2 linked regions of the Homo sapiens genome follow. The protein of the gene in region 2 interacts with the protein of the main gene of each other region in a biochemical or structural test. Each region holds a gene or a part of one and is shown on either strand. Other genes may lie near its edges.

The links. The genes of interacting proteins can lie anywhere in the genome.
Region 1: of the proteins of CTNND1 (region 2) and FYN, one has a biochemical effect on the other in vitro, tested with the Homo sapiens proteins (one study listed by BioGRID).

What each region holds. Positions count from the first base shown.
Region 1 is NC_000006.12:111,702,453-111,705,952, forward strand, and holds part of FYN (tyrosine-protein kinase Fyn), read right to left. Parts: intron 1,651-3,500; coding exon 1,547-1,650; intron 583-1,546; coding exon 433-582; intron 1-432. UniProt on the Homo sapiens protein: Non-receptor tyrosine-protein kinase that plays a role in many biological processes including regulation of cell growth and survival, cell adhesion, integrin-mediated signaling, cytoskeletal remodeling, cell motility, immune response and axon guidance.
Region 2 is NC_000011.10:57,764,802-57,768,301, reverse strand, and holds part of CTNND1 (catenin delta-1), read right to left. Parts: intron 1-3,500. UniProt on the Homo sapiens protein: Key regulator of cell-cell adhesion that associates with and regulates the cell adhesion properties of both C-, E- and N-cadherins, being critical for their surface stability.

The DNA.
Region 1 (3,500 bases), on a different chromosome or scaffold from region 2:
AAATGTACGTGCAGCTATTCCTGCAACAGTGCTGAGGGTAAAGTGATAGTGGAAACACAATATTCCTTGTAGGAGTCCCCATGTAAGCGCCCTCCGAGAGACTGCTTTCTCACATGCAACGCGGGGAATGGGAAAAGACAACTTGAAGATGAAAAAACAAACAACTTTTAAAATTTAACCTATTGCTTTCTACTTGGGAAACAAAAATATTATAGAATCTTCGGACAAACATGTGGAACTAATAATAACAACAGTAGAACAATAGCAATAGAACCTATACAGCCAAGCCCTACCATTAAGGGCTGGCAAAGAAAACATACTCTATAAGTGATTTTGTACATATTAGTTTTACCCCTTTCCACTTTCCTGCTCTGGGCCTATCCACTCCCTCCAGCATCCAAATGGTTAGTAGGTAGTTAGAATTAAGGTTACCTGAGTAATGTTGTACAAGCTGCTGAAGTGTTTCAAACTGGGCCCGGGTGGTAATGTAGTATCCACCATTGTCAAGTTTGCGAATTTTATAATGTTTGACATGGTCTCCTTTCATATCATCCCAATCACGGATAGAAAGTGAATAGGCACCTGGTAAACGTGGAAAGCATTAGCAGCTCCAATCATTTAGAGTATCAGCTTGCTTTTTAGGCCTCATTTTCTTGACTCTGATTAATAATTACCAAGGATGCACACACACATGTACACACACACAGCATCTCCACTCAGTAACAGGAAGAAGATGCTTCTTGATGTTCTGCAAATGTCAGAATATATTAGCAATAAAATGATTCTGCCCTTGAGACTGAAAGCTTCCTGGACATTTTTCTTAAACACACTGTTCGGTACCCCTTGTTGCATAATACAGCGTAGACTCAATTCCAACACTCCTTTCCCCCAAGGGTAAAGAAGGACCACGATGAATGGCTGAGCTTGCTTCCCTTGTCTTCTCTACCCAGGGGCATACTGGGAGGTAGCAGCAGCATGTGCAAAAGAAATCTAAGGCTTGTTTCTCTAGAAGTGAGCTTCAAGCTTCTGCTTTACAACACTTTTTACAGGAATGGATAATCTGGCAAATTAAGCTAGAGGCCACTACTCTTTTCTTCCTTGACCTGTCTCCTCTTGTGGGTTGTAAGGAGTTGTTAAATAATGAAAAGTCCAACAGTTGGAGGAAGAGAAGTGAAGTCCTCAGTTATTTAAAAAACAAAAGGAAAGCAAAAACAACCTGTATGACTGGCACCTGAGGAACTAAGATTTCAGAAAATCAAAATTCTAAAGGACTTCTGAAAATTCTACGATCTTGTGTGCCTGGAGCAGTGTAGCTGCATCCAGCCCGTTTCAGGAGGAAGGTCTTGATTTGGGGCCTCTGTAGTTCTTTTGGTGCTGTCTGCAGTTTTAGAGCCTGGAGGGAAGACTGAAAACAGGACTCCACTCACAAGGCAGGGAGGGTATGTGCCATTTTAAAATCCTTGTACATTAGAGATAAGCCTTTCATCCCCTCTGACTAATCCACAGATTTGAATGACAAGCCAACTTCTTCAACTCGTTATCTTACCTTTGGTGGTTTCACTCTCGCGGATAAGAAAGGTACCTCTTGGGTTTCCAAAGGACAATAGCTGTCGCTCAGCATCTTTTCGGCCAAGTTTTCCAAAGTACCACCTTTAAATTAGATCAAGGAAAGAAAATATTTTGAAATAGTCATTTACAAAATGCAACAGCATAGGCTTTTTTTTTGCCCATGAATTCCCCTCTCCTCCAATTTAGTCCTTAACCTTTCCCTGGATGTATTTTTTTTCTAGCTTAATTCAGTTCCTTTTCAATCTATCCTGGATTCTATCCCTAATTCATCTCTTTCACTCTTTAAAAAAAATCAGATTTGAGTTGTGGGTTGTTTTCCTCCCCTCTAGACATGACCAGAACTGGTTTGTGTTAAAACTGCCACCTGTATGCAAAAAACCAGAAATCTAAGACCTTGATTTGAAATGGTTACTGCAGGAGACCCTTTCCACACTTATCTAAAAGACTCTAGTCTGGGCATGGTGGCTCATACCTGTAATCCCAGCACTTTGGGAGGCCGAGGTGGGCAGATCACCTGAGGTCAGGAGTTTGAGATCAGCCTGGCCAACATGGTGAAACCCCAGCTCTACTAAAAATACAAAAATTAGCTTGGTGTGGTGGTGGGCACCTGTAATCCCAGGTACTCGGGAGGCTGAGGCAGGAGAATCACTTGAACCTGGGAGGCCCAGGCTGCAGTGAGCTGAGATTGTGCCATAGTATTCCAGCCTGGGTGACAGAGCAAAGCCGTGTCTCAAAACAAAACAAAACAAAAAAAACAAACGCCAGGCATGGTGGCTCATGCCTGTAATCCTAGCACTTTGGGAGGCCAAGGTGGGTGGATCATGAAGTCAGGAGATGGAGACAATGCTGGCTATCATGGTGAAACCCCATCTCCACTAAAAATACAAAAAATTAGCTGGGTGTGGTGGCATGCACCTGTAATCCCAGCTACTCAGGAGGCTGAGGCAGGAGAATTGCTTGAATCTGGAAGGTGGAGGTTGCAGTGAGCCAGGATTGCGCCACTGCACTCCAGCCTGGGCAACAGAGCGAGACTCTGTCTCATAACAAAAAATAAACAAAAAAACAAAACTCTTGAATCTCTTGATATCTAAGCATTATTGTAACTGCTGGGAAATAACAAAACACAGTCTTAATGTATATGAAGATAATCAAGCATTAAAAAAAGTCAGATTAGATAGATATGATATGAATAAAGGAATAGTATTTTCAATAACTTCCTCCCTATAAGAATTCTGAGAAAAACGCCCATGAGTACTTACTTGTATTTTGTTTTCCTCCCCTAGGTGTGTGAGGACTTGGATAAGTAAAGGCATTTATTTACCAAGCACCTGGATTGTGATCTGTGTTCATCATCTTCTTCTTCTTTTTTTTTTTTTTTTCTTGAGACAGGGTCTCACTCTGTCACCCAGGCTGGAGTGCAGTGGCATAATCATAGCTCACTGCAGCCTTGACCTCTCCAGGCTCAAGCAATCTTCCTACCTCAGCCTCCTGGGACTAAAGGTGCACATCACCACACCTGCTAACTAAAAAAATTTTTTTTGTAGAGGCTAAGAGTGGTGGCTCATGATTGTAATTCCAGCACTTTGGGAGGCTGAGGCAGGCAGATCACCTGAGGTCTGGAGTTCGAGGCCACCCTGGCCAACATGGTGAAATCCCAACTCTACTGAAAATACAAAAATTAGCTGGGCATGGTGGCATGTGCCTGTAATCTCAGCTATTCGGGAGGCTGGGGCACGAGAATTGCTTGAACCAGGGATGTGGAGGTTGCAGTGAGCTGAGACAGGGCCACTGCACTCTAGCCTGGGGACAGAGTGAGACTGTCTCCCTATGTTGCCCAGCATGGTCTCAAACTCCTGGGCTCAAGTGATCCTCTCGCCCTGGCCTCCCAAGTGCTGGGATTACAGGAGGGAGCCATCACGGTGGACCCTGTA
Region 2 (3,500 bases):
CTACCGTTGTTTTGAACCTCACCCACACAACTCTCCAATATTACCTATTACTAATTTTTTCCCATTAAAAAAATTTAAAAGTTAGCTTTACCCACTCAGGAAGCCCATATATTCTGTAATGCAAGCACCTACATCTACCACAGATTCTCAGGTTTTAAGAGACCTTCGGACGGGCATGGTGGCTCACGCCTGTAATCCCAGCACTTTGGAAGGCCGAGGTGGGTGGATCATTTGAGGTCAGGAGTTCGAGACCAGCCTGGCCAATATGGTGAAACCCCCTCCTCTACTAAAAATACAAAAATCAGCCGGGCGTGGTGGCGGGCACCTGTAGTCCCAGCTACTCGGGAGGCTGAGGCAGGAGAATTGCTTGAACCCGGGAGGCAGAGGTTGCAGCAAGCAAAGATTGCACTACTACACTCTAGCCTGGGAGACAGAGCAAGACTCCGTCTCAAAAAAAAAAAAAAAGACCTTCAAGGGCATTAGTTCAACAAACGAAATTTGAGTTCTTTGAAGCATCCATTCTAATAGCAAACACAAGACATTACTAGGAGCTCTGCATTACTCTATAAAGTTCACATACATTAAATAACTTAAGTGTCACAACAATCTATAAGATGGTTAATATTATCCCCATTTTACAGACAAGGAGGCCAAGGCAGAGAGAGATTAAGCAATTTGCCCTAGGTTACATGTTTCCTCCGTGGCAGTCTAGCTCCCCATCCATACTCTTAATCATTATGTTATGCTGCCTTGCCTCACCATATTATGGAAGTCTCAGATTGGAAATTCCCTTTTTGGTTAGCATATTTACCAAAAAATATAGAATAAAGCATTTGTGGCAACATGTTAACAAATGATACCTAGGCAAATGAAGAGTATACCAGTTACTGTGCTAGAGCAACTTTCCTGCAAGTTTGAAATAAAAAGTTGAGAAGTGCTTTTGTCATCACATCACATCAACCAACCTGGGACATGTTTTGTGAAAGTCATGACCAAATTACCTACTGCTGACCAGCAAGGAAGGCTTTAAGATAAAATTCTGGCCGGGCGCAGTGGCTCAAGACTGTAATCTGGGAGGCCAAGGCAGGCGGATCATGAAGTCAGGAGTTTGAGACCAACCTGGCAAAAATGGTAAAACCCATCCCTACTAAATATACAAAAAATTAGCAGGGCGTGGTGGCGCGCACCTGTAGTCCCAGCTACTTGGGAGGCTGAGGCAGGAGAATCGCTTGAAACCGGGAGGCGGAGGTTGCAGTGAGCTGAGATCGTGCCACTGCACTCCAGCCTGGACAACAGAGCAAGACTCCATCTCAAAAAAAAAAAAAAAGATAAGAAAATTCTTTGCCTCTTTATAATTCCCCCACTATATGCCTGATCTAAATTGTCCACACCACACCAATCAAACTGAAGGGCTCACTGGAGAAGAAGTGGCCCTAAAAACAGGGAACACGATCCCTGAATAAAGTGGTAAATTCAGGCCCCATTCTCAATGCTTAATATTTAATAATAACATGCAATTCCAAGTAGAATTAGGGAAAAAAATTACTTCCGAAAAATACATTAAACAATTAAATACAAATCAATCCATACCCTAATTTCCCCCTCATTAGTTCTAACCAGAACAGTTGTTCTTGCCTTCTTACAATCTCCCTGCCAGGCTACATCAATGCTCTATTGGAAACCTTGGAGGCAGCTGCATAATTTAGGCAGAGCAATCCCTACTTCAGCTTTGTGTGTCATTTAACCCTTCTTTGAGGGAAGAGAACATGAAAGAATATTTGTACTTATTCACATCCTTATTACCTACAGTTCACTCCTGTAGGCAAGTTCCTTGTTAATACCTTTTAAATTACCCAAGAAAACTAATTTCGGTTCTTAAACTCATAAGCTTCCCAATACATGAACAAAATCTAAAGTTTTGTGGCTAAAACAGTGATTTAAAAAATACACTGATATCCAAACATACTTTCTTTGAAACACTGATGTTCAAAACTATCATCCCAAGCTCTTAACGTTTTTATTAACAAGCACAGAAACCATTCACCTCCAACCAGGGCTGAAAGCAGTACTTTTCTGCTGATGTCTTAATATACTCTCCCCTAGAAAATGGCAACATTTAAGGTTTTCAGTGTTGAAGTTCATTATGAAATGAACGGACTAGGATACTTATTATTTATTTATTTATTATTATTATTTTTTGAGATAGGATCTGGCTCTGCAAGCCCAGTCTGGAGGGCAGTGGCATGATCTCGGCTTGCTGCAACCAGTAGCTAGGACTACGGGTACATGCCACCACGCCCAGCTAATTTTTGTATTTTTTGTAAAGAGGAGTCTTCACCATGTTGCCCAGCGATCCACCCACCTGGACCTCCCAAACTGCCGGGATCACAGGCGTGAGCCACCGCACCAGGCCAGATCCTTACTTTTTATACTATTCTTTGTACCACTTGCCAAGAAAGGAACAGGATTAAAGAAAAGCTAAAATTTTAAATCCTCCATTATCTCTAGAAACTTTGCTTAAAAATATAAGGGAGGGCCAGGTGTGGTGGGGCACACCTATAATCCCAGCACTTTAGGAGGCCGAGGTAGGAGGATGGCTTGAGCCCAGGTGTTTGAGACCAGCCTGGACTACATAGAGAGACCCCATCTCCACAAAAATACACAAAAATTAGCCAAGCATAGTGGTGTGCACCCATAGTCCTAGCTACTCAGAAGACTGAGGTGGGAGCACCACTTGAGCCCAGGAGTTTGAGGCTGCAGTGAGCCATGATTTCACCACTGCACTCCAGCCTGGATGACAAGAGCAAGACCCTGTCTCAAAAAAAAAAAAAAAAAAAAAAATTAAGGGAGGAGACGCATAAAAGGTTAAAACTACAGACTACAGTAAAAGTTGCAAAAGTACATTGCAATTTGATTAATCTATGTTGTTTTGCTTCCTTTCAAGCCTTCCCCACAAATCAGTCCCTCACTGATTCTCATCAAATGCCTTATTTAACCAAGGCTTACTGAGCACCTCAGTATGTACCAAACACTAAGACAGGTGCTAAAAAGATACAGAGATAAGACAGTACCTACACCCAAGCTGCTCATAGTCTAGAGGGAAAGACAAGAATATCTGAACTACCTCCTACAAGCCTGTCCCTGCAAGTTGATGATATCCTATCATTCCAAACCACATACCTAACAAATTCTCTGGAAGAAGAAATTTTACTGATAAACAACGTGTGACACAATTCCAGGAAGTTTAAGAAATTAGGACAGCAATGGTGGGCATATGGATATGGAAAGATTCTCGTTCTAAAGATTAAAATAATATCCATTCTAGCACATCCAGCTCCCCATGGGCTCTATGGAAAATAGATCTTTTGCATACATTATCCCAACAAGGGTAGTGGGGAGTTGGAGGGAGTTGGAAATTTAAGTGAGTACTGCCCCTGTGCCAAGATGAAACACTCCTGCCTCTAGCAAGGGCTCGTTTTAGTTCGAGCTGTTGTTTCCAT